Linked DNA regions of Homo sapiens. The protein of the gene in region 2 purifies or fractionates together with the protein of the main gene of each other region. This does not show direct contact. Each region holds a gene or a part of one and is shown on either strand. Other genes may lie near its edges.

Evidence for each region.
Region 1: the proteins of SERPINA10 (region 2) and PLAT purify together in Homo sapiens (affinity purification with mass spectrometry; 2 studies listed by BioGRID and IntAct, with this or other methods). This does not show direct contact.
Region 3: the proteins of SERPINA10 (region 2) and MIA3 purify together in Homo sapiens (co-immunoprecipitation; 3 studies listed by BioGRID and IntAct, with this or other methods). This does not show direct contact.

Annotation. Positions count from the first base shown.
Region 1 is NC_000008.11:42,188,301-42,200,768, forward strand, and holds part of PLAT (tissue-type plasminogen activator isoform 1 preproprotein), read right to left. Parts: intron 4,912-12,468; 5' UTR 4,886-4,911; coding exon 4,814-4,885; intron 3,115-4,813; coding exon 3,072-3,114; intron 772-3,071; coding exon 634-771; intron 1-633. UniProt on the Homo sapiens protein: Converts the abundant, but inactive, zymogen plasminogen to plasmin by hydrolyzing a single Arg-Val bond in plasminogen.
Region 2 is NC_000014.9:94,279,960-94,283,268, reverse strand, and holds the end of SERPINA10 (protein Z-dependent protease inhibitor precursor), read left to right. Parts: 3' UTR 1-2,809; downstream 2,810-3,309. UniProt on the Homo sapiens protein: Inhibits activity of the coagulation protease factor Xa in the presence of PROZ, calcium and phospholipids. Also inhibits factor XIa in the absence of cofactors.
Region 3 is NC_000001.11:222,625,772-222,638,239, forward strand, and holds part of MIA3 (transport and Golgi organization protein 1 homolog isoform 1 precursor), read left to right. Parts: intron 1-1,803; coding exon 1,804-4,618; intron 4,619-6,393; coding exon 6,394-6,555; intron 6,556-7,332; coding exon 7,333-7,478; intron 7,479-12,468.

The DNA.
Region 1 (12,468 bases), on a different chromosome or scaffold from region 2:
CTCTATGTGCCAGGCGCTGTTGTACAGTCTACAAAAATTAGCTAATTTAATCCTCACAGCAAACCATGAAGTGTGTACTGTTATTCCCACCTCTTTATAGATGAGGAAACTGAGGCAAGCGGGCATTTGCCCAAGGTCACTTGGTCTTGCTCCCTTTTCTGCTTGTACCTTCACCTCCGCCTAAGGCCGAACAGGCCTGGAGGCTCCTTTTGAAGATTTGAACTTTCCGGGGACCATGAAAGACAGGGTTCATGACTGGACCCCTGAACTCGAAGTCTCAGTTTGAAGTCGATTTGTACTGGGCTTTTCTGTGTTTTTGTTTTTGTTTGTGTTGTTTTGTTTTGTTTTAGAGGTGAGGGCTTGCCCTGTCACTGAGGTTGAAATGCAGTGGCACAATCGTAGATTACTGCAGCCTCCAACTCCTGGGCTCAAGTGATCCTTCTGCCTCAACCTCCCAAGTAGTTGGGACTACATACCAGGTCTGGCTAATTTTTTTATTTTTTGTAGAGACAGGGGACTTGCTATGTTTGCCCAGATTGGTCTTGAACTCCCGGGCTCCAGCGACCCTCCCACCTTGGCCTCCTAAAGTGCTGGGATCACAGGCATGCACCACCTCCCAGCCTCAGTACATACTTTTGACAGGCACTGAGTGGCACTGTGCCCTGCCACTGTTGCACCAGCAATATTCCACCCGGTTGCTTCTGAGCACAGGGCGCAGCCATGACTGATGTTGCTGGTATATCATCTGCGTTTTTTCATCTCTGCAGATCACTATGAGAAAAGACAGGCCAGCCTCATCAGAGTATGACTCAAAATGAAATGCCTCACTACCCTTGCACCTACTGAGAAAACTCCCTCACTTGCTTTCTATAGACTCCATTGCATACTCCCTTATTGAAGAGACACAACTGGAAGACAACAAGATAATGAATACTGGCCAAACACGGTGACTGATGCTGGTAATCCCAGCACTTTGGGTGGCCGAGGTGGGTGAATCACTTGAGCTCAGGAGTTCGAGACCAGCCTGGCCAACATGGTGAAACCCTATCTCTACTAAAAATACAAAAATGAGCCAGGCATGGTGGCAGGTGCCTGTAATCCCAGCTACTCAGGAGGCTGAGGCAGGAGTATTGCTTGAACCCAGGAAGTGGGGGTTGCAGTGAGCCGAGATTGTACCACTGCACTCCAGCCTGGGCGACAGAGCAAGACTCCATCTCAAAATAAAATAAAATAAATTTGCATTTCTTTTCTGAGTGCCATTGAGTATCTTCTCATATGATTTATTTATTTATTATTTATTTATTATTATTATTTTTGAAACAAAGTCTCACTCTGTCGCCCAGGCTGGAGTGAAGTGGCACAATCTCGGCTCACTGCAACCTCCACCTCCTGGGTTCAAGTGATTCTCCTGCCTCAGCCTCCCGAGTAGCTGGGATTACAGGTGCCCGATACCATGCCCGGCTAATTTTTGTATTTTTGGTAGGGACGGGGTTTCACCATATTGGACAGGCTGGTCTCGAACTCCTGATCTCAAGTGATCCACCCACCTCGGTCTCCCAAAGTGCTGGGGTTACAGGCATGAGCCACCGTGCCCAGCCTAATTTTTTCTTTTCTTTTCTTTTTCTTTTTTTTTTTCGAGGGTCTCTGTCACCCAGGCTGGAGTCCAATGGTGCTGTCTTGGCTCACTGCAACCTCTGCCTCCCAGGCTCAAGCAGTCCTCCTGCGTCAACCTCCCAAGTAGCTGGGACTACAGGTGCACACCACCACACCCAGCTAATTTTTAAATTTTTTTGTAGAGGCGGGGTGGGGTGGGGGAGGCAGAGGTGTCTCACTATGTTGCCCATGCTGGTCTTGAACTCCTGGGCTAAAGCCATCCTCCTGGATCCGCCTCCTAAAGTGCTGGAGTTACAGATGTGAGCCATTGCACCTGGACTTTTTCTCATTGTAATTCACCAAAAAATATATATATGCATAACTGTCTACCAGAGTTTTTTATCCACATAAGTATTACCACACAGAAATGATGCATTTTTGGCCCCAAAGAAAATTGACATTTTAGACTTTGCAGAAAATGTGCTACTTCTCCAAGTATTTTTGGCATAATGAAAATAGTTGAAGTACTCCCATTAATATTTTCATGCCATCTTTCTGTTTTCAAGCCAGAATGCCAACTTAAAAAACAACAACTTTACTTTCAATTAATTAAAGAAGTAGCACGTGCCCACTGTAAGTCAGACCCTTGCTGCTTCTGAGGTCACTGAGGCCAGGATAACCTGGTAGGAAGCAGGATGCCATCCAACAACGAAGGCATTAAGAGTCCAGGTGTGACTCGCTCTGGGGAGTGAGTCACCCTTTTTAACACCTTCACAAAGGGTATTGCAGAGTCTTCCAGACTCGAAGGAACTGGGTCGTGAAGGAGGGAAATCGAGGGCCTAAGTTGGTAGTTTTGGACCTGAAGCTGGGCCTCGCATTCCTCAGCCTTCTAGAGTCAACTCTAGATGTGGACTTAGAGACCCCACCATGTCGAGGGGTTGCCTGGGTGGGACATCCCAGTTGGGACATCCCGGTTGGATCAACAGAGGGAAATGGATACACAGGGATGTTGTTACCAAAGCTGCCGGTGCACTGTGGTGGGATCACAGCCTAGGATGAGACCCAGAGCATGGGCCTGGCCTCGGCTGTGACTGCCCTGGCCGTGCTGCTGGCGGCTGTGTGACCCTGGGCAAGCCACTTGCTCTCTCCTGGGCTCTGCCTTTTGATCTGTATAACCAGGACCTTGGGCCAGTGGCCGCCCCCCCCAGCCCCCGCTAGGTTGTGATCCCTGACAGCCTGGCTCCTTGGGGGGGAACACCTGTTTCTGCTCCCCTCAGAATCAGAACCCGCCCAGTGGCCGCAGCTGATGGGAGAATGGTGCCGACACAGGCATCTCTGTAGAATCATGCTGCAATGGCACTGTCACACCGTAGGCAGGTGGTGGGTGGAAGAAGGCAGGTGGTGGGTGGGTGATGCACCCTGCACCCCGCCCTGCCTCCCTCCCTGATGACCCCATGCACCCCTCAGCTTCACCCGACCTTGGTAAGATCTGGCTCCTCTTCTGAATCGGGCATGGATTTCCTGCGAAGAAACCAGAGGTGGAGGAAGGATCAGCACATGCCAGGTGTACTAAGAGTAAAGGCGGCCAACCCAGAAGCCCATGTGAACCTGCCGGCCAGATACCTCTGCTCAGAGACCCCCTCGGGTAACTGGCCCAAGTGAAAGTCCATCTCCTGCCTTCTAGTCCAATTCTTCCTCTCCTTCCTGACTGGCTCTGTCCAGAAGAGCTTTCTGCTTGGTGGAAATGTTTTCTGTCTGTGCTGTCCACGACAGAAGCCACACAGGGCCACCGAGTGCTTTGAATGTGGCCAGTGGGACTGAGAAACAATTTTTAACTTTAATTATTTTAAATTTAAACAGTTGCACAAGGTAAGTGGCCACCATATTGGGCAATGGAGTTGCAGCTGGCTGTCTACTCCACGCAGTCACCTGGCTCTCCCCGCTGTAGGGTCCTGTGGGAGAGGTGTGGTTAGTTTGGACTTCCGTGAGGCCCTTTATTGCTAGGCATTTTCAGAGAGTGTGTGTAGCGCTTCCATCTCAGCTAGAGAGTAGGCACCATGAGGGCAGTTTGCCTCTGCTGTGGCTCATGGCACTTGCATTGCCTTTTTCTTTTTTTTTTTTTTTTTTTGAGACAGGATCTCAGTTTGTCACCCAGGCTGGAGTGCATTGGCGTAATCATATCTCACTGAAGTCCCAACCTCCTGAACTTAAGCGATCCTCCCGCCTCAGCCTCCTGAGTAGCTGGGACCACAGGTGCATACTAGTACACCCGGCTAATTTTTAAATTTTTTGTAGAGACAGCATCTCACTATATTGCCCAGACTGGTCTCCAACTCCTGGGCTCAAGCGATCCTCCCACCTCGGCCTCCCAAAGTGCTGAGATTACAGGTGTGAGTCACTGTGCCCTGTCCTGCATTGTCTTTTATAAATACAGTCCACTTTGTATATCTGCAGGTTCCATATCTGTGGATTCAACCAAAACAGAAAAATAAAAAATAATAATATAAGCTGGGCTTGTGGCTCACACCTGTAACCCCAGAGTTTTGGGAGGCCAAGGCTTAAGCCTAGGAGTTTGGTGCTGCAGTGAGCTATGATTGTGCCATTGCACTCCAGCCTGGGTGACAGAGTGAGACCCTGTTTCCAAAAAATATATAAATAAATAATACAACAATAAAAATAACACAAATTAAAAAATACCTTATAACAACCATTTACATAGCATTAACATTGTACTAGGTATTATAAGTAATTTAGAGATGATTTAAAGTATACAGGAGGGTGTGCATAGGATATGCAAACTCTACACCATTCTATATGAGGAACTTGAGTATCCCTGGATTTTGGTATCCTTGGGGGTCCTGGAACAAATACCCCATAGATATGAGGGACAACTGTACTTTATGGATTAATTTGAATACATTCTTTAAAAACAGCTGCAAAAAAAGGCAGTCACAGGCAGGGAGTGGCATGTTAATTCCGCTTACTCAGGTCAAAATAAGTGCCTAGGGCCCAGCTACACACTGGGCCCCCAAATACAGAGTTTGCTGTACAGAAGGGAGTGTGTGCTGTGTGCTCCACAGCAATGCCAGCCCCTCGTCCCTGTGCCTCTCTGCTCCCTGACAGCATTCCAACCTCCGTGGCCCAGATGGACACAGACCCCTGGAGCCTCCGGAAGCATCACAGCCTTGAGGGGCGGGACACAGGGATCCTGCACACCAACCTGGCTGGGCGAAACGAAGACTGCTCCACACAGCAGCAGCACACAGCAGAGCCCTCTCTTCATTGCATCCATGATTGCTTCACAGCGTCCCTTAAATTCTGGAAGGAGAGAAAAAACAGCTTGATCACGGGGTGCGAGAGGTCCATGATGGCAACAGAGGAGGATAAGCCGCAATGTTGTCCTGTCTGGCTTCCTCCAGTGCCAGCCCCGCGGCAGAAACGCCAGACATGCATCTAGAAGAGGATTCTAGAAACTACATATTTTTTATTGTTGCAAAATATATATAACACAAAATTTACCACCTTAACGATGTTCAGTGCACAGTTCAGTGGCATTAAGCACGTCATATTGCTGTGCGGCCGGCCGTCACCACCGCCCATCTCCAGAACTTCTCCATCACCCCTAACTGAAACTCTGTAGCCATTAAAGAATAACTCCCCATTCCCCTTTTCCCCAGCAGCCACGCTGCTACTTTCTGTCTGTATGAACCTGACTGCTCTACATACATCCTAGAAGTGGAATGAGACAGTGTTTCTTCTTTTGCGACTGGTTTGTTTCACTTTGCAAATGTCTTCAAGGTGCATCCATGCTGTAGCATGTCCTTTTTTTTTTTTTCTTTTAAGATGGAGTCTCGCTCTGTCGCCCAGGCTGGAGTGCAGTGGTGTGATCTCGGCTCACTACAAGCTCCGCCTCCCGGGTTCATGCCATTCTCATGTCTCAGCCTCCTGAGTAGCTGGGACTACAGGCGCCTGCCACCACGCCCGGCTAATTTTTGTATTTTTAGTAGAGACGGGGTTTCACCGTGTTAGCCAGGATGGTCTCGATCTCCTGACCTCGTGATCCGCTCGCCTTGGCCTCCCAAAGTGGTGGGATTACAGGCGTGAGCCACCGCGCCCCCGCTGCCTTTTTTTCTTTTTCCTTTCTTCTTTCTTCTTTCTTTTTTTTTTTTTTTTTTTTGAGACTAGGTCTCGCTCTGTCATCCAGACTGGAGTGCAGTGGCATGAACATGGTTCACTGCAGCCTTGACCCACCAGGCTCAAGAGATCCTCCTGCCTCAGCTTCCCAGAGCTGGGACTTCAGGCATGTGCCACTGTGCCTGGCTGAGAGAGAGAGAGAGAGAGAGAGAGAGTGTGTGTGTGTGTGTGTGTGTGTGTGTGTGTGTGTGTGTGTAGAGACAAGGTTTCTCTATGTTGTCCAGGCTAGTCTCGAACTCCTGGGCACAAATGATCCTCCTTCCTCAGCCTCCCAAAGTGCTGGGATCAGGCGTGAGCCACCGCGCCCAGCATTTTTCCTTCCTTTTTAAAGCTGAATAATACTCCACTGTGGGATAGAACACATTTTGTTTATCCATTCGTCTGTCAATGCTGGGAGATAATTTTGCCCAGAGATTTCTGTGGGCTGAAGGGCTAGACCATTTCTGAGACATCTTGGCAGCCCAGAGACCACAGCGCTCTGGCTTGGTTTCCTGGAAGGGAATTCCTGCCCTGGGCTTGACTAGATGGAGCCGCAGTCATGTCCTCTTGGACTTCTGCAGCGGAAGCCATTGGGATTTTATTGCCAGCACATCATAGAGCCAGCCTGCCTTAGACTGCTCAGGTTCCTCCACGCAGGATGGAGCCTACTCCCCTGCCTGAGGTTCTCCCCACAAAGCAGAGGCCCCCCAACCCAACCTCCACGCCCACCCCCCCCACCGCTCTGCCAGAACATCTGTCTCCTTTTTCATAGACTGCAGCAGATCCGGCAATGTGCATATTTGCAGGAAGGAGGGGAGGCAAATGATGTTTGGTCGGAAGACTCAGATCTTCCTGGACCCCAGAGCCCCAGTTTCCATCTGCCTCTCCTCTGTGATCCTGCCCTCGGCAGCTAAAAGTAGGTTAGTCGGCCGGGTGTTATTTTGTGGTCTGGCGGCCTGTTCCCTCCTTCATCCACAAAAATTAAAGCATGGCATTTCTTTCCCTGACTCATTTCCCTTCGGTCACAACAACTTCAGGTCCCACCCTCCCCCTCCCCCTCCCCCGAGCGTCCTAGGGGCCTGGAGGCACAGGGGCTTCCAGGCCTTGCCTCCCTGCCTGGGTCCGGCTCTGGATCTTTGATTGTTACTTCGAAACGAACTCCCCCGTGGGAGGTGCTGATCACCCTCCTTGCCTCGCTACATTTCATGCCTGACAGATTCTCCCCGGGCTCCTGTGTCAGGCAGAGGAGCTTAGGGAGAGGGCGAGGGAAACCTGCAGGAGGCTCCGGGTACAGCAATTCCAATGAGAAAACACAGCTCAGAGGGAGGCTCGCCAGCGTGGCATCCTCTCAGCCTCCCTGCACCTGTCCCATCAGGAGGGAACAGAAGTGCCATCTCCAGCCTTTGAGCCCGCAGTGCCCAAGGTCTCCCTGGAGTGCGCTCTTTGGGTGTCCCTTTCTCCCCGGGAGGAAGCAGCTGTGCTACTCCCTGGCTCCAGGCAGTTTCAGAAGAAAGGGAGTCAGGAGCCAAGGCCACCCAGAACAGGAGTGCGGGGTGGAATCTTCTCATCACAGAGACTTACTCCAGATCTTCTCTTTCTCAGCTTTCCTCAAATTTCCTGTTTCTCAAAACTGCCCAAAATTCCTCTTAAATTCCCCTTTTAAATTTTATCCCATTACTTAATCTTGTAAAAATAGCTCATGTGAAACTCCCTCCCCATTTCTCCTTGATGTTCATGTATCTCTAGGTTGCCCCACTCCTTACTCTTAAGCAAGACCCAAGGATGGTGAGAGCTCCCACCTCACAGGAATTGTGAATGAAACAGCAAACGAGTGAGTACAAGGAACTTGACCTTCTTCATCACGCTGTCCACACCACCCAGCCCTCTCGATAGGCTCCTGCACCCCAGCCTGGGATACAGTTTGGGTGTTTTTTCCAGATGCCCACCAAGTTACTTCTTTATTTCAAGAACTCAAAGTCCTTCCAAAAGGAATGCAATCCCAGATGCCGGGAAACTGCAATGTGAAGAGTGCAGTATGGACATGTTGGCATTGCCTGGGAACATCCCCCTTTCTGGATAACTAGGGGTGGGGGGACCAGATGGAGGAGAAGCACGACCTAGGGCTGGTCCACACATACCACCCGCTGCATCATGTTCAACCCTTTTGCAACTGAACGGTCTGAATAAGAGATAAGAGAGCAGGAGCATATTTTTGTCTTTGCTCCTGAGAGAGTTGGAGACTTGTCTCTTCTCTTCCTTGGCTTCCCTGGACCTTCCTGCGCCTTGAGCTGATTCAATGCAAGTGAATCTCACCCCAGCAGGGCGATAGCTCTGTCCGCATCACACAGAGGCGATTCGAGCAGCTGAAAAGGCCAAGTGGGGTAAGAGATGACAAAGAAATGAGTCATCCGGCCAGCAGAAAAACAGTGCAGTCTGAAAACAAGAAAGAGCGAAGAGAGGGAGGAAAAATGAGTCCTTGTTTCGCCTTCGCTGAAGAGGTGGGCGTCGAGGTCTGGGGCCAGTGACGGGATGCAGAGCAGAGTGAAAGCCAGAACAATGGACTCAGACTCGGGACCGCAGGGCGTGGCTGGGATGGACTTTGGGCCTCACCAAAGGGAGGTCCATGAGTGCTCTGGCGAGACCCGGGTGAGAGATGACATTGGCGGAAGGGATGGAAGAGGCTCATTTTTATAAATAGACTTCTAATTTTGTTCTGTGTTATCTCCCTTTTGCTATATTTAGTAGCTTCTCAGGATCATCAAAGAACTGAAAAAAAAAAAGGCAAATGAGAAGAAGGAAGGAAGGGGGTAGGAAGGGAGGCACAGAAGGATAGAAAAGGAAAAAAAAGAAAGGATGAAAGAAAGGAAGGCCCCAAGGTTGGCTGACTTTTGCTGGGCTGGAATCCAGAATCACTGTATGAGAGGAGAGGTGGAATGCTGGTCCCCAAGACCCCAAGGCCTAGCCCTGTCAGGCCACCCTAGCACACAAAGTTGATTTTTGCAGATTTGCAAAAGGTACCCTCTCTGTTGGATGAAGTTCAGCAGTCTCAGGGCATGGCAGGTTGACAAAGAATCTGTGCAAATTAGAAAAAACAGAGTCCGTGGGTTGGCTGATAGAGTGCAGCCCGGATCTGAAGGATGTGTGTGTAGGCACCTGTGTGTAGGACACAGCCAGCATATCTGTGCTCGGCCAGCCCTGTCTGCTTCCAACCTGCATGTGCATCCTGCAGAGCAGCTCTGACCTTCCTGCCTGGAAGCCGTGTTTGGTCTGTTGGCTGTAGCAACCAGAGTGACTCTGTTCCTGGGCCCTGCCAAACAACCTGTGAATGATGACTGTTCTTGGGGAAAACGGGAACAATAGTCTGGTAACCAGGAAGTGGGGTACCGTGCTGTAAGCTCACTTTCCTGGGAGATGTACTGTTTCCCAGAGCCAAGGATGCATGCCGTTTTGGCTGAGAAATTGATGATCATGCCAACCAGAAAGGTGGTGTTCATTTCTTTGGTGGCCACATGGGGAAATGATGGTCGATGGGCACCAGTGAGTAACTGATTCTGGATTGGGCACAGCCCCTGGAAAGGAGGAGGCCAGCTGGAGGAGGGACAGGGGAAAGTCAGTGGGGTGCTGTCTCAGTGCCTGTGTATTACATCCCCCTCTATCTGCCTCTACCGGCCCCATCTTCCCTCCATAAAAACCAGCTCCTAGGAAAGGAACTAATCAGCTTGTTCGCATAAGGTAAAAATGACTGAAAAATAATTAATGTGCTGTCCTTCCAAAAAGCATCTATATTTTGAGGCATAAAATCTCCTGCCAGCAATGCAAAACCAAGTGGGCTGGATGCTCCAAGGTTGCCTCCGGTGCTGACATCCTGCGGTTTCTGTTCTGTTGTGAGAACATACGACATGGGGAGTGTCACATGCAGTATAAACTGGGAAACTCTTACAAATGGCACTATAGTTCTATTGTTTAAATTATATAGGAAAGCGAGGCCACATGAGGTGGTTCACGCCTGTAACCCCAGCACTTTGGGAGGCCAGGGTGGGAGGATCACTTGAACCCAGGAGTTCGAGATCAGCCTGGGCAACACAGTGAGACTCTGTCTCTGTTTATTTTCATATAAAAACATTTTAAAAATAGATTATATGGCCAGGCACAGTGGCTCACACCTGTAATCCCAGCACTTTGGGAGGCCAAGGCTGGCAGATCTCTTGAGGTCAGGAGTTCAAAACAAGCCTGGCCAACATAGTGAAACCCCATCTCTACTAAAAATACAAAAAAATTAGCTGGGCATGGTGGCGGGCGCCTATAATCCCAGCTACTCAGGAGGCTGAGGCAGGAGAATCGCTTGAACCCGGGAGGCGGAAGTTGCAGTGAGCCAAGATTGCGCTACTGCAGCCTGGGCGACAGAGCAGGACTTCGTCTCAAAAAAGATTATACAGAAAAGTGACTTGCAATAAAGGAACTGTACACATGTAGTCAATCAATGAAATTGCAAACAGTGCAGTCGCTCCAGATGTTAGTGAACTGGAGAATTATAGTCTGTACTCTTGCCAGCAAGAAGAAGGCAGAAACGTGAGCAAGCTAGAGGAGGAGGGAAATTGCAAGGGAAAGACAAACGTAAATTGATACTATTATCAAATGTTGCACCATGTGCAAAGTTTGCTACATTTATCTTTGGTCAAGGAGATTCTTAGGTTATTGTTGCTTAGCAAAAGGTCTCTCTGAAAACCTGAGCAAGAGAAAGTCAGTCTTCAAGAGTACCAATACCCTAAAATGACTCATGGATTTAAAACAACACACTCTCCACTGCCACCCCCGCCACAACCACCATAGCCCAGATGAATGCCAACAATTAAGAAAAGAAACGGCCAGGATTCCTTGGACCAGCAAAGGCACGTTTCTAGAGCAGGACGAGAGCTGAAGTGAGATGCTGGGAGAGGAACTAGCCTTGGAAAGGGTGGCGTGCTCCCACGAAAGCAACCCTTTGTTCGGGACAGGAGCTTTGAGCCTGGTAGCTCTCATCCCACTTCTCCAGGCCCTGCATAGTACAGAGGCCATGATCTCAGAATAAAAACCACTTTCAAAAACTACCATCACATAAGTAATTCTTAACTTTTCGAAAAGGTGATTTTCTATAGGCTAAATGGTTATTTTCCCTCTCTTAACAGAACTGTTTATAACTAGGGGAGAAGAGAGGAAGAGTCTGTTTCTTATCTAATTTCACCAATTCCAATGAAGTGAAGAGTATAGCATCCTCTCAGAGCTGGGTGTGGTGGTTTGCACCTGTAGTCCTAGCTACTCAGGAGGCTGAGGCAGGAGCATCACTTGAGGCGAGGAGTTCAAGACCAGCCTAGGCAACATAGCAAGACCCCATGTCTTCAAAAGAATAGAATATTTTCCTGGCAGACCCTGCCCCCCACCCATCAGAGCAGAATTTTCTCCAAAACATCTTCCAAATGTAGGCATATGGCCTGTGTCTAAGCTATATGGAATTAAACTCAGAAAAAGCTACAGCAGGCATGTCCAGCTGTCATCTCCTCAATGCTCCACCCTCTGCCTGGTAATCCCGGTTATTTGGAGGAGTGGGGAATTTTGGTTGTGGGTCTAGGAAAACAGAAGTCTATCCCGCCTCCTCCCACAATCAAAACAGAAGAAACCCTGTCCTAATACACTTAGATCCTTCTGAAGCAAACACAAGGACCACCTGGTGAAAACTAAATCAGTCAGTGCAATAAAATGTTAACTGCAAAGTCTGCATCTAAACAAGCCCTGAAATCTAAAGTGAATCGAAATGAATGTCATCTTCCGTGATGAAGGTCGTTCGTTCCTCATGTTCCTTCCACTCCCTAAAGCAAACATCACCACAAGGTAATTAAATACGCAATGATTTGACAATTCTCCAGCCCAACTCCACATTTCAACACACTTGAATTAGGAAATACTGATCAGAAACTTTCATTGTATCATTATATGACTTTACCCACATTTTACTGGCCTTAGGTGAAAGTGACATTATTGTTGCCTGAGAAATGTACACATGGATGAATGCCACTCACTCAACAGATATTTGAGTAGCTTCTACCTTTCCAGGCACAGAGTTTACTAAACCCTTTCACATCCATTAAGTCATTTGAGGCAATATTATTACCTCGTTTTTACAGATGGGAGAACTGAACTTCAAAAAAGTGTAAGGGGCTGAGAGCAGTGGCTCACGTCTGTAATCCCAACACTTTGGGAGGCTGAGGAGGGTGGATCATTTGAGCCCAGGAGTTCAAGATCACCCTCGGCAACATAGGGAGACCCTCGGCTGTACAAAAAATACAAAAATTTGCAAGGTGTGGTGGCTCACATCTGTAATCCCAACACTTTGGGAGGCCAAGGAGGGTGGGTGGCTTGATCCTTGGAGTTTGAGACCTCCCTGGGTAACATGGCAAAACCCCATCTCAACAAAAAAATACAAAAAATTATTTGGGCATGGTGGTACATGCCTGTAGTCCCAGCTACTTGGGAGGCTGAGGTGGGAGGATGGCCTGAGCCTGGGAGTTTGAGGCTGCAGTGAGCTGTGATCATACCACTGCACTCCAGCTTGAGACAGAGCAAGATCCTGTCTCAAAAAAAAAAAAAAAAAAAGTATAAGCGTCGTGCTGTACGGTGACACATCTTGTGAGAGTTGGCATCAGGACTCAAGCCCAGGAGACACAGTTC
Region 2 (3,309 bases):
ACCTTAGTTACTTGGCTAAAGACTAGCTGGGTAGAATATCTTTTCTCTGTTGCTCACATATTTTCATTTTTAAAAAGTTGCAGATGAGAACACTATGTCAAGATAAAGCCTTTGGGAGGAACACATGTAAACATTCTCCTTGAGTCATGTGCTTCTCTCTCTTTCCTTCTCTCTGGTGCAAAATAAGTGTTTTATTTTAATCTATTACGGAGTCATTTCTTGCTGACTGACATCAGAAGAAAATAGCTCTAACCAGTCCTGATCACAGCATCTGCTTCCATGGTGCATCAAATCGCTTGGCAGAGGCATTGGCTGAATCACAGATCATCTAGTTCAATACCTTCATTTTACAAAGGAAAGAAAGAGGGACCCAGAAACAGGTCCATATTCTTACTTTCATGGGCCCTAGGCACGTTTAACCTTGTAGACTCCTCCTTCCTTCATGAAGATATATATGTTCTATGGCTGCATTGGTAGAAAGATGAATATATTCGTCTTTCAAAGTTGCATATCTAGCTTCAAAGTTATATGTCTAGCATATGGCAATAAGCAAAACACCTTCATGGGCCCTTACAGTACTGTCAGCCTTGGGCACTGTGTCTTCTGCATCTAGTGGATAAGTCATACCTTATATACCAGTGGGAACAAAATACTTGTCCAAGGTCTTCCAGTGTGGCAATGGCAGAGTCAGAAGCCTACCTTTCCTGAGTCTAGTCTCCAAGCCCTTTTTACTCTTCCTTCCATCTAAAACATCTGATGGGGACCAGGTAAACAGCATGCACTACAGCTACCCATGGGGGTTAAACAGAATATAAGCATGAACTTTGTCCCAGGGTGAAAAGGAAAATCGTAAATATCCCTGATCTTCCTTAGGCAGTTATTTTCTGTCACAGAAACAGAAAAGACTATATTCAGAGAATCCTGAATAGAGCTGATTTACAGTGTGAACTATGTTAACTAAATGCCTAATTGGATTTCTGTCTGTCTGCTATCTAATGTTTAAAAAAACCTAAAATTCATTTATTGATTAGTTGTTTAATATAATTCAGAGTAATGTGAATAGGTAATAATATTAATATGCAGTCTAAATACTGACTTTTCATCATTCCATAACCTGGACTGATGAAAAGTCAGTATTTAGACTGCATATTAATAAAATAAAATTCATTCCTGTATTCATTCCAAGAGTACTAATTGACACTTATGAAGGGACAGGCAATTCTAGGCCCTAGAGGGCCAAAGACAGAGGACTAACTCTATCTGACATTCTTAAGTCACCTTGTTTGTGTTCAATTAGTCAGATTTGTTTGTGGAAAAATAGTAGAAAGAGGAATAAAGTAGCATCCAGTCCAATTTCCCACTTTTAAGAGATGAAATCTGGAAAAATAAGTCTGTGAGAGCACAATACTCACTGAAATCAATATGGCCAAACCCAGTAATAAAAAGGTACATTATTATTGAAGGATTCATATAGCATGCAGATAAAAAACTCCTGCCTTCTTCCCACCACATACACTGCAAAGCAACAACAGCATAATAATTGTATTTAATATACTACTCTTTAAGGTAGAAAATGGACCTATTCTATATTTTAAATATACTTTTTAATGTTCCCTCACATTTGCTTTAAGAAGTTCCTAAGACACTCAGTTTCAGATTTCCCAAGTACACAGGCATGACAGAAAAACGCAGACCAATAAAAAATGTAACTTACCTTACACAAATACATACACACAAATTCAGGGTTTCCAACCGAGCGGGGGAAATCTTAACATTGTAGAAGTCTTCACTATATATGTGTCGAGTTTTTGTTTTTGTTTTTGTTTTTGTTTTGAGACAGAGTCTTGCTCTGTCACCCAGGCTGGAGTGCAGTGGTGCGATCTCAGCTCACTGCAACCTCCACCTCCCGGGTTCGTGCCATTCTCCTGCCTCAGCCTCCCGAGTAGCTGGGACTACAGGCACCTGCCACCACGACCGGCTAATTTTTTGTATTTTAAGTAGAGATGGGGTTTCACTGTGTTAGTCAGGATGGTCTTGATCTCCTGACCTTGTGATCTGCCCGCCTCGGCCTCCCAAAGTGCTGGGATTACAGGCATGAGCCACCACGCCCGGCCAAGTGTCGAGTCTTAAAAATTGTTCCTACACAGACACACTCAACCACACGTTCTCACATATATATGCTGTAACAACTGAGAACAGGTTACTGACTTAATCTAATTCATTCTATCTTCATTGTAAAACTTCCACTCCAGCTGAAGAGCCTGTTTCATTTCAATTCAAAGATTTCTCATATATCCACTAATTGTATGGCAAAACTGACTCATCTCCAGACTAAGATATTCAAGCTCAGGAAGTCAAATAATAGAAATGATTTTTTAAATGTGTAAGAGGTTATAAAGAAAAACTTTATGTGCTCCTTATTTAACCTCTATTAAGTAAAATCCTTTATAGACCTATCTCCATTTCTGCAGTAAAAGTGAGCTCTACAGTTAGCTTGTAAGGCTAACTAGTGAAATTCCTGGACTTGTTCTTAAAAATGCAAGTTTTAGTAATTAACAAAATGATGATGAAGATGTCCCTTTTCCCTACAACTACAGATGGAGGGAGATTTTTCTTTGCCATACAACTAGCTTAAAGGATTAATTTGATAAGTTGTTAAACTGAGAACTTTCACAAAAGTATCCATCTTGTTTTTGATATAAATGGAGATACATGTAGTTATTCATAACTGTCAGTAATTTGCTGTTTATCCTGTTTCTATATATCTGTCCTTGAGAGTATAATTTTAATAAATATTTCAAAGATTTTAGGAAATGTCATGTTCTGTTAAAAAACTTCCAAAAGTAATTTTGATGAACAGTTTTGATAACTTAGTACTAACTAGGACTAAGACTGCAATTGACTGCTCTACATTCCTGAACTTTATAAGCAGTAGTTGTTTCTCTCTGTCAAATCAGTGTCCCCTTTTCCCATTTGCATCATGGGAAAGTGAAACCTTATAATTCTGCTAAATTTATTATAACAAATACATTGAAATTCTCCATTTTATTAAATTAATAGAATGTTATGAATCAAAGCACCAAAAAAACTGATGCAATTTTGATGTCTCGTTCTGTACCACATTCTCCAGATCTTAATATATTCAGTTCCACATTATTGGTGCTAGTAGGAGACATAATGAAAACAGTTAAATGAAATCCACAGCGAGTATACTGATTAACCAGTACTGTCAAATTTCTCATACCTATTGAATTTTAACTACTGACAAAATGAGCAGTAACAATTCCATTTACCTGATTGTCCTTTGGC
Region 3 (12,468 bases), on a different chromosome or scaffold from region 2:
TGCCGCCCAGGCTGGAGTGCAGTGGTGCGATACCAGCTCACTGCAGCCTCCGCCTCCCAGGTTCAAGCAATTCTCCTGCCTCAGCCTCTGGAGTAGCTGGGATTACAGGCGCCTGCCACCACACCCAGCCAATTTTTTTGTGTTTTTAGTAGGAACGAGGTTTCACCGTGTTGGCCAGGCTGGTCTCAAACTCCTGACCTCAAGTGATCCATCTGCCTTGGCCTTCCAAAGTGCTAGGATTACAGGCTGCCTTTCATATATATATATAAAAAACACCATGCCCAGCCCCCCATCTGATTGTTTTGTGAGTTTTAGAATTTATAGTAATTGATGTCTGCTTTCATTCAAAAGTCTTTGAGTAGCTCTTTGGAGTTGCTGCAGAGCGTGCAAGCTGCTGGGCTAGGGCAGTTCTTAGAAGAGATTGGCAGAGTGAAGTCACAGAGCTATTGCTATGCTTAAAATTTCTCGACGCTCTCAGGGGTTATATAGTCAATCGTATTGCCTGTTTGGCTTCACTCCTGATGAAGAGACTGCCCGGGATTTGAGTGTGAGACAGCAATTCATTGGTCACAGAGACCTGACCTGTATACTAATTGTAGTTCCCACTGCATGATTCCCTTAATATTAAAAAAATTGGCTCAGAAGTGTGCATGATGGAAAGAGGGAAGTCATTCATCTCCAGTACACAGGACAGTTCTCACCAGAAGATTGTGAATGTTTAGTTAGGGGAAGAAAGTTATCTTTGTTGGTTTTTTAACTTTTCCATCATTTTATGGCTCCTTGTATGTCAATTTGCTTACTGGTGGAGGAAGGGAAAAATACAGATTTACTTGACAGTCCTGAAAGCAGATCTTAGTGACTGGCTAGAATCCTTATTTGGAGTTAGGTACCTACCTTACTGAATCTTGTTTTCAAGTTGTTCTTGTGGCAGTATGAAAATGGGGAGCCTCCTTTACACCATTCTTTGTTCTCTTACATTTTTATATCTCATGCACCTGTATCTCAGTAAGTTCCTTCTGAAGCTGATTTCTTTCCCAGTCCAAGGAAAATATGAGCCCCAAATCCATGTAGACTGAGAGCCTGACAGCCAGGTGATTCTGCCTGTTTCTGACTGGGTGAGCAGAGAAGTATGACATAGAGGGCACAATGTAGAGAAGCTGATGGTCTTTCAGCTCCTCCTGGATGGGTTATAAGGTGAATTCCCAGAACATCAGGCATAGATGATGGGAGTTGGGGAACCCAATAAATGACACCTTACTTTTCCCCACCTGTGCTCAAAACAAAATTGAGAGACCCAGGAGTTGGGCAAATAGGAGATCAAAATGACCCCATTATTTACTGATAAAGCTGTTTGGAGTATGCAGAAATAATGGGCTTTCTAACATTGCGGTCTAAACTAAGATGGACTTATCCAGTCACAGACAGAGCTATCCAATAGGGGTCTCCCCAGGTGGGACTGTCCCTGTAAAACGGACAGCATGGAGGAACAGAATATGTGTTTCCTCTCCAGCAGGTCCCAAACAGAAAACAGGATTGGGACTGAGCAAACTCACCAGCCACATGAATCATTCTTCCCCTGGGGAAGAGAGAATGAAGGGAAGCCAGGAGTATTACTCAGATGGGAAAGTGGGTTCCAGCCTCCTATCCACCCACTGCCCAAGAACAGTCAGTGCCCAGTGTTGACGCAAAAGCTCCTCTAGAGCCAAACGTGAATTCGAGATTATCTCAATCATTAACGTGGATAAGACTTTGCTCTGGTGACACTTGGCTATTGACAGACTAATGTTTTTCTTTTTCTTACAGGAGACGGATTTTGTTTGTTTTGATGGAGGAAGAGATGATTTTCATAATTATAATGTAGAAGAACTTTTAGGGTTTTTGGAACTGTACAATTCTGCAGCTACAGATTCTGAGAAAGCTGTAGAAAAAACTTTACAGGATATGGAAAAAAACCCTGAATTATCTAAGGAAAGGGAACCTGAACCTGAACCAGTAGAAGCCAACTCAGAGGAAAGTGATAGTGTATTCTCAGAAAACACTGAGGATCTTCAGGAACAGTTTACAACTCAGAAGCACCACTCCCATGCAAACAGCCAAGCAAATCATGCTCAGGGAGAGCAGGCTTCATTTGAATCTTTTGAAGAAATGCTGCAAGATAAACTAAAAGTGCCAGAAAGTGAAAACAACAAAACCAGCAATAGTTCTCAGGTCTCAAATGAACAGGATAAGATTGATGCCTATAAACTTTTGAAAAAAGAAATGACTCTAGACTTGAAAACCAAATTTGGCTCAACAGCTGATGCACTTGTATCTGATGATGAGACAACCAGACTCGTTACTTCATTAGAAGATGATTTTGATGAGGAATTGGATACTGAGTATTATGCAGTTGGAAAGGAAGATGAGGAGAACCAAGAAGACTTTGATGAGTTGCCATTACTTACCTTTACAGATGGGGAAGATATGAAAACTCCAGCAAAGTCTGGCGTTGAGAAATATCCAACAGATAAAGAGCAGAATTCAAATGAAGAGGACAAGGTTCAGCTAACTGTGCCCCCTGGCATCAAAAATGATGATAAAAATATACTAACAACCTGGGGGGACACTATCTTCTCTATTGTCACAGGAGGTGAAGAAACAAGAGATACGATGGATTTAGAGAGCTCTAGTTCAGAGGAAGAAAAAGAAGATGATGATGATGCATTAGTCCCAGATAGCAAACAGGGGAAACCACAGTCAGCAACAGATTATAGTGACCCTGACAATGTAGATGATGGTCTTTTTATTGTAGACATTCCTAAAACAAATAATGACAAAGAAGTAAACGCAGAACATCACATTAAAGGAAAAGGGAGGGGAGTTCAGGAATCCAAGAGGGGCCTGGTACAAGATAAGACAGAATTAGAGGATGAAAATCAAGAAGGCATGACTGTGCACAGTTCTGTTCACAGCAATAACCTCAACTCTATGCCAGCTGCTGAAAAGGGTAAAGACACATTAAAATCAGCTTATGATGATACAGAAAATGACCTAAAAGGAGCAGCTATTCATATCTCAAAAGGAATGCTCCACGAAGAAAAGCCTGGAGAGCAGATTTTGGAAGGTGGCTCAGAGAGTGAATCTGCACAGAAAGCTGCAGGGAATCAAATGAATGACAGAAAGATTCAACAGGAATCCCTGGGTAGTGCACCACTCATGGGAGATGACCACCCTAACGCATCCAGAGACAGTGTGGAGGGAGACGCTTTGGTAAATGGGGCCAAACTGCACACGCTTTCAGTGGAGCATCAACGTGAGGAATTGAAAGAGGAATTAGTTCTTAAAACTCAAAACCAACCTAGATTCTCCTCTCCAGATGAGATTGATTTGCCCAGAGAACTGGAAGACGAGGTTCCCATTCTGGGAAGAAATCTTCCCTGGCAACAAGAAAGAGATGTGGCTGCCACAGCCAGTAAGCAAATGAGTGAGAAGATAAGGCTCTCTGAGGGAGAAGCCAAAGAGGACTCCTTGGATGAAGAGTTTTTTCATCACAAGGCAATGCAGGGCACAGAGGTAGGACAGACAGACCAAACTGACAGCACAGGAGGACCAGCTTTCCTTTCTAAAGTAGAAGAGGATGATTATCCCTCTGAAGAACTACTAGAGGATGAAAACGCTATAAATGCAAAACGGTCTAAAGAAAAAAACCCTGGGAATCAGGGCAGGCAGTTTGATGTTAATCTGCAAGTCCCTGACAGAGCAGTTTTAGGGACCATTCATCCAGATCCAGAAATTGAAGAAAGCAAGCAAGAAACTAGTATGATTTTGGATAGCGAAAAAACAAGTGAGACTGCTGCCAAAGGGGTCAACACAGGAGGCAGGGAACCAAATACAATGGTGGAAAAAGAACGCCCTCTGGCAGATAAGAAAGCACAGAGACCATTTGAACGAAGTGACTTTTCTGACAGCATAAAAATTCAGACTCCAGAATTAGGTGAAGTGTTTCAGAATAAAGATTCTGATTATCTGAAGAACGACAACCCTGAGGAACATCTGAAGACCTCAGGGCTTGCAGGGGAGCCTGAGGGAGAACTCTCAAAAGAGGACCATGAGAACACAGAGAAGTACATGGGCACAGAAAGCCAGGGGTCTGCTGCTGCAGAACCTGAAGATGACTCGTTCCACTGGACTCCACATACAAGTGTAGAGCCAGGGCATAGTGACAAGAGGGAGGACTTACTTATCATAAGCAGCTTCTTTAAAGAACAACAGTCTTTGCAGCGGTTCCAGAAGTACTTTAATGTCCATGAGCTGGAAGCCTTGCTACAAGAAATGTCATCAAAACTGAAGTCAGCGCAGCAGGAGAGCCTGCCCTATAATATGGAAAAAGTCCTAGATAAGGTCTTCCGTGCTTCTGAGTCACAAATTCTGAGCATAGCAGAAAAAATGCTTGATACTCGTGTGGCTGAAAATAGAGATCTGGGAATGAACGAAAATAACATATTTGAAGAGGCTGCAGTGCTTGATGACATTCAAGACCTCATCTATTTTGTCAGGTACAAGCACTCCACAGCAGAGGAGACAGCCACACTGGTGATGGCACCACCTCTAGAGGAAGGCTTGGGTGGAGCAATGGAAGGTGAGATGCCTATGGCCTTGTAGAACAGGGCTGGAGAAGCAGGTGGGTGGGTCGCTGAGGTGCCTCCTATCTTGTGAAGCTCTGTTCAGTTTCCAATGTGCCTAAAGGAGAGGGACAACACAGGGAGGTCCACATGTTCCTTCCTGCCATCTTTCTTTTAGGCTGGAGCATGGAGAAGAATTTCTTGCCGTTTCCCTTAGAATAGTTGAGACTGGTTAGCATTTTCAAAAGGAAACTTTGTAAAAAGCTAAAGAGAAAGATATAAACCAGAAAGTAATATACAAAATACAAATGTCATGTAAAATTATGAAAGGGTTTTATTGAACACAATTTTTCAGTCGTCAGATAACTGCTCTGTAACCATGGATTGACTGGTATAACTTTTAGATCAATGCCTTGGCTAAATTCCTACGTTCTCCCCAATTTTATCTTTTGTGGATGGCTTGTTCTTCCTGTTTCTTGGGAGCACTTACTCCAGTTAAACCCTCCTGGGCCGTAAGGTTCTTGCATGCAGATTAATCAAGATTGGGACAGGGATGCCTTCGAATGCAGTGCTTGATGCGTGGAAGCCATTCAGTTGAATTAACCCCGAGCCAATATCCTGACATAAGCATTCTGATTCCTAGTTCCTTGTTCTATTCTCTGCATCCAGGCTTTTCTCTTTCTTTTCTTTTCTTTTCTTTCCCTTTGCCCACCTGCCCTTCCTTCCTTCCTTCCTCTTTCTTTTTTTCTTTTCTTTTTTTTTTTCTTAAGACAGGCTCTCACCCTGTCACCCAGGCTGGAGTACAGTGGCATGATCATAACTCATTGCAGCCTCCAACTCCTAGGCCCAAGCGAACCTCCCATCTCAGCCTCCTAAGTGGCTAGGACTACAGGCATGCATCACTGTGCCCAAATAATTTTTATTTATTGTAGAGACAGGGTCTTGGTATGTTGCCCAGGTTGATCTTGAACTCTTGGCCTCAAGTGACCCTCCTACTTTGGCCTCCCAAAGTACTGGGATTACAGGTGTGAGCTACCGCACCTGGTATATCCAGGCTTTTCAGACAGATGTATCTGAATTGAGAGTACCAAGGGGACAGGAAGCCACAGGAAAACGTATTACTCCAGAGTGCTAATTTTTCCTAAGAAATGGGGGAGGAGAACTTTTTTGCATTTAATTAAAACATATATTTTGGATAAGAAGGCAATATTCAGATGAATTTTCAGGGTAAAATATGAGGCTACAAGGAAATTCACCTTTGCTGTGGATCACATTGGACTGTCCCCTAAGCCTCTTAGGAGAGGAGATGGCTTCACTTTGTTTGACTCTTAGAGGTACTTTGAAAGTATTCGAAAGACATCTCAGCAAGCTGCCTTGGCGTGGAATGTCCCTGTCTGTACTAGTTCTGTGAGAAAGGCATGCTAGGGTATGCAAGAGTTCATGTTACTTCTCTGCAGAATAGATGTTTCACATTTCTGCTCTTGAGTGGAATTCTCATTTGCACATTTATTTGTGTGGGTGTAGGCTGATTTGCCAAGGAAAGATGTTACTGAAGTCCCTACCATAAATGTATTTATTTATGAAATACTCCTCTGTAGATTTTATTATGTAGATTAGTCATCCTTTAAATGGAATAAAAGAAACTGAAACTCTTATTTCCCTGCCCAGTTGTGCTCCATGGGATGCCCATGCATGGAGGTCAATGTTGAGGTGCCCTGGTGTGGTCAGTGGGATTAGCCTAACAGGTAGTGTCATCAAGCTGTGCTAGCCCAGTGTATTCTTCTCACCCTAGAGATGCAACCACTGCATGAAGATAATTTCTCACGAGAGAAGACAGCAGAACTTAATGTGCAGGTTCCTGAAGAACCCACCCACTTGGACCAACGTGTGATTGGGGACACTCATGCCTCAGAAGTGTCACAGAAGCCAAATACTGAGAAAGACCTGGACCCAGGTAAAGCCTGCTAATTTTTTTCTACAAAGTGGAGAAATCATAAAGAAGGCCTTCTAGGAGATTCATTGTCAAAGGCAGGAGCTAGAGACTTGTTAAATTCAAAGGAAAAAAGGATCCCAGAGCTAATTGAGAGAAAAGCAGGCGTCAAGACAGATGGAGATCAAAAATAGGAAAGACACCAGAGACTATAACTAACCTACAAACCAATGTTTGGCTGTCACTATCTTGTGTAAATTATTTCAATCTAAAATATTATTCTTAAAAGGCCTTATGCTCTAAAACAGTAGTTTTCAACCAGCCCAGCAGCATCAGAAACTCTGGGGGTGGAACCGGCAATCTGTGTTTAACAAGCCCTCCAGGAAAGACTGACCTGATGCAAATTACAGTTGGAGAACCACTGCTCTAAAACTCACAAATTCTGTTTTTCCTCTACTTTACCCCTCTCTTTCCAAATAAAATACAATGCAATGCAGTTCTTTTTTTTGATTTGCTATCTGGACATGGTAAGTAAAACTTCTTAAAATACAGTGAAGGGGTCCAAGTATGTTTATAGCATAAGCTCATAGGAGACAGTACAGAACACTGTAGTGTGTAATAGTCCAGGATAGACCGACACAAAGAGTATTTCACCACAGTGCACAGTAAACATCCAGTGAGAGATGAGAACGTTTACTTTCCAGGCACAGTGCCTAATATTTAGTGGATACTCAATAAGTATTTTTTAAAGAGAATTCTTATTCTAAAGCACAAAATGTCTATCTTTCCTCCCAATTCCAGGGCCAGTTACAACAGAAGACACTCCTATGGATGCTATTGATGCAAACAAGCAACCAGAGACAGCCGCCGAAGAGCCGGCAAGTGTCACACCTTTGGAAAACGCAATCCTTCTAATATATTCATTCATGTTTTATTTAACTAAGTCGGTAAGTTTAACATAGTTTTTTTTTAACTAAAATGTTGATTATTACAGTTTTTAAGTTGATTTTGAGCATGAGGTGAAGAACTTAAAATGTCTTTATGAACCTGACTCCTGATCCTTTGAAGAGAGACCCTGAAATGAGCCACAGGTGTGTGGCTTTAATGGGCTCTTAGTTCAGCACATGAGGAGGCTTTGCTGCATGCTGGAGCTGGGCACAAGCACACCTGTCAAACGTGGTTCTTCCTTTCAGGGACCTTTCAGTTTAGCCAGGAGAGAAAGACAGTCACTTGAAATGTAACATGATAATGGGCAGGAAGAGAAGTATTTACCTGATGGTAGAACAATCTGTGGCATAAATTGGTTCATCGTGGAGGGAGAGTGATAGGAAAGGCCAGAAATTCGCTGAGATATGCTTTAAGCAGATTCGAAAGAGATGGGAGCTTGACTTGGAGTTGTCAAATAGAAGGGCTAGGGGAAGGATGTGGGCAGGGGGGCGGGCAGCATGCAGTCAGGCAGAAGAAATAACACATTCAGAGAAATGGAGGCATGAAGAAAAGGTTATTTGGGGAAGCCAGGGAAGCGTGGGTAGTTGGTGTTTTTTCTTTTTCTTTTTTTTTTAAATTGAGACAGGGTCTTGCTCTGTTGCCCAGGCAGGAGTGCATTGGCGTGATCTCAGCTCACTGCAACCTCTGCCTCCTGGGCTCAGGCGATCCTCCTGCTTCAGTCTCCTGAGTAGCTGGGATCACAAGTGTGCACCACCATGCCTGGCTATTTTTTGTAGAGGTGGGGTTTTGTGATGTTGCCCAGGTTGGTCTCGAACTCCTGAGCCCATGGGAGCTGCCCACCTTGGCCTCCCAAAGTGCTGGGATTACAGGCGTGAGCCACCATTCCCGGCCAGTTGGTGTTGTTAAAGTGTGGAGTTAAAATTAGCTGGGCAGGGTGGTGCACACCTGTAATCCCATCTACTTGGGAGGCTGAGGCAGGAGAATAGCTTGAGCCCGGGAGGCAGAGGTTGCAATTAGCTGAGATCGTGCCACTGCATTCCAGCCTGAGCGACAGAGCAAGACCCTGCCTCAGAAAAAATAAAAATAAAAAAGTATGGAGTTAGGAGGGAGAAGGTCTGTTGGAGGGACTCAGGGAAAGTCAGAAAGGAAATTGTACACCATAGTGAGTGGTCAGACCATTGTTGGCAGAGATCCTTGGAAGATTTTAAGCAGGAAAGGGATTGTCAGGTCTGTTTCTTAGAAAGAGTCACTTATGGCAGAATATTTATTCAGATCTTTCTAAAGGGAGCCATGCTCCAAATGAGACATTTAATGTCTAGAAGCTTATCTAGGCTTTTTAGGACTTAGCTCCCCCTTGTGGTACTCGGTGGAATTGGACTTTTTTTCTTGGTAAATTAGAGGACTAAGCAAGCTCTTGAAGTTGGAGGCCAGGTTGCCCTTAGGGCTACAGAGAAAGTATGCTTCTCACCAAAGCCATTTCCTTTAGGTTCTGTTATTTCAAGACTCGAATAGGAAAGAGCGTTCTTGTTGTTTTTCTGTTAAAATCCATGGGTTTCAAGCCAAGATGATTTTATTTCAAATCCCAAAGCTATCGATTAGAAGTTTAGGGCAAATTACTAAACTTTGAACCTCAACTTTCTCATCTGAAAAATTTAGATAATACATACTCCAATTGTTGGTAAGAATTAAATGACATGATAATGTAAAATGTCTGGTGTAGCAACTGGCATTTTGTAAGATCTCATCCCTCACCTAATTCTCATTTGGATGGTCAGAGGGCATATAAAGACATTGAATACCTGAGGGTTTCAGGAGAAAGACCACCAGGATGGAAAACAAGTAGGAAAACCAAACCATTTTTCAGTATTATTCATGTTTGTTCTGGTGATAGCCACCTGGGTGAAGGTGTGTATTATCTTTGCAGTTGGAATAATGAAGTTTTCAGGGATTAAGACAGTCTCAGAATTCAGAATTTGGTTTTCAGAGTGAAATTATCACTTGAAAAATTTAACAGCCCCAGTTGTAGAAGGAATTCTTTATTCATTGTATTTCTAGATACGCACAGAGCCCTCTTCTAGGCCTGGGTTGGGGCATATAGGAGTGGTGTAGGATACGATCTGTGATCAGGGGATAACAGGGAATGACAGACATGAATGGCAAGATATAAGGGCGCAGTGTTATAAGATGCCGACTTGAGAGGGATTGTCAAAAGAGCATTTTGATGGCTAAATATGTACCAGAAATTGTGCTAGGAATACAAGATTCCAAGAGGTATAAAGTGTAATTCTGACTTTTGAAAGTCTTCAAAAAAAGTTTACCAAATACATGTGAAAATTGGAGAAAGTGGAGAATATAGGAAATAGTTTATGCAAAGTATCAAGTAGTTCATATAGATAATTGTTTCATAGGGTTTTGGAGTAATGGGGTGCTGACTTTATTGGGAAAACTATACCAGAGGTCAGACTCGTAGATCAATAATTGATGAATAGTTAGTGGAATCTTAGGGTTGGAAGAGACCTTAGAAGCTACTAGTCCAACTTCTCAGTAGTCACAGCAATTCCCTGTACTCTAACCCTGCCATTTTGGGACCTGTGCGTCACCGGTTCCTAGTGTAAGCCGCCTACCTTGCAAGGCTATACATTCCTTTGTTGCCTATTTCATTCTTATACTGACTCCAAATTTTCCTCCAGATGATTTCCTCTATAGAATCTAGTTTTCTTTTTACATAGTAATCCTTTAAATATTTGAAGTTATACTTTAATTTATTTTAGCATTTTATCCTGGAAAATTTCAAATATACAAAAGCAGAGAATCCGTGGGACCATCACCCAATAATTCCCAAAAGTGACTGTACCATTTTATACTTCCATCAGCAGTTAATGAAACTTCCATTTGACCACACCTTCCCTAACACTTGGTATTATCAGTCTTAAATTTTAGCCATTGTAGTGGGTATGCCTTTCTGGTTTTAATTGTAATTCCTGATGATTAATGATATTGAGCACTTTTTCACTGCTTATTGGCCATAGTTTTTTGTGTGTCAGTTCACTCTGACTAGCTGGAATTTAAATGTCTTGCAGCCCTGTGACAACTCTGGGAATTGTTTAGCTTACAGTTGTTCTTTTTTCCTTTAGTTATTCTTTGCCCATCCTCAAGGAATCTTACCCTACACAGGAGCTGTTTAGAATTCAGGCTGAGGCTGAAGGAGAGACCTCCTTGCATATTTCTGGAACTCTACTTGTTCCTAGTGTCCATCTTTTTTTTTTTTTTTTTTTTTTTTGAGATAGAGTCTTGCTCTGTTGCCCAGGCTAGAGTGCTGCGGTGCCATCTTGGCTCATTGCAACCTCCACCTCCCGGGTTCAAGCGATTCTCCTGCCTTAGCCTCCCAAGTAGCTGGGATTACAGGCACCCGCCACCACACCCGGCTAATTTTTGTATTTTTCAGTAGAGACAGGGTTTCATCATCTTGGCCAGGCTGGTCTCGAACTCCTGACCTCGTGATCCACCGGCCTCGGCCTTCCAAAGTGCTGGGATTACAGGTGTGAGCCACTGTGCCCAGCCCATAGTATCCATCTTTCTGGTACCTTTTCCTGCATATTTCAGATGCCTCAGTCTCCCCGAGCTTTAATCTCTGCCTCCTCTGCAAGATTGGTGTACTCTGCTTGGGTTCCCTATCCCTGCACTGAAGTCAAGAAAGTACCGCCAGGTAGAAAGCTGGGAGGTTGTAGAGCTCACCTATTTGTTTCTTTTCTCTCAGGGGTCACAATTGTGTGCTGCCTGTTGTTCTCTATATGAAAAACAGTTTTTAAATATCTTTTGTTTAGTTTGCTTGTTGCTTTCAGTGGGAGGGTGAGTCTCATACCAGTTACTGTCTATGGAGTTCTTTCTGTTATTATTGCAGTGCATTCATTGAAGAAACAGTTTTGTTTGGCTTCTAAGGTATATGATGGTCTAGATTTTGCTGACTACATCCCCCTGGTGTATTTTAACATTTTTCTCTGGTTCTTTATATTTCCTGGGAATTGATAGTTGCATCAGTAGTCAAATTCAGATTCAATTTTGTTTGTCAAGAATACTTAATAGGAGATGTTATGTACTTCCATCAGGAGGCATTTAACATCTGGGTGTCCCTCTTTTTTTAAAATTCTCTTTATATTGTTCCTCCTTCATTTAAAGGCTGGGGTATTTCTACAAAGAGAAACTTATGATCAAGTATTCTTTACACTGAGATTTGGCTTGTATAGTTAAGGCAGGGTAAATATTTGATTCTTTTTGTTTATTTAAACAGTTTTCAAAATAACGAGTTAGACAACTCATTCGTGGCATTATCAAATGATGCCCAAAGGGTTTTGTTTTTTTCTGACTCTTTCTAATAATCATTATGCTGTCATGGATTTAAAAATATTTGGTGTGTTTCTATCCAATCAAGAATAATTTTTTTTTTTTTTTTTTTTGGTTAAGATAGGGTCTCACCCTGTTTCCCAGGCTGGAGTGCAGTGGTGTGATCATGGCTCACTGCAGCCTCGACCTCTCTGGGCTCAGGTGATCCTCCTACCTCAGCCTCCTGAGTAGCTGGGACTACAGGTGTGTGCTACCATTTTTTATATTTTTTGTAGAGACGGGGTTTTGCCATGTTTCCCAGTCTGGTCTCAAAATCCTGGGCTCAAGTAATTTGCCTGCCTCAGCCTCCCTAAGTGTTGGGATTACAGACATGAGCCACCATGCCTGGCCAGTTATTCTTATTGATGATCAATTTACAATTATAATTGGAGATTTCAGTATCCCTTCTCAATAACTGATAGAATAGGAAGTCAATAAGGATCTAGAAGTTATGAACATCATCATTAACCAACTTGACATTATTGATGTTTATGGAACATTCCACCCAAGAAGAGCAGAATACATATTATATACTTTTTAGTGCACATGAAGCGTTTACCAAAATAAACTATATTATCAGCCATAAAACAAGTCTAATGAATATAAAAT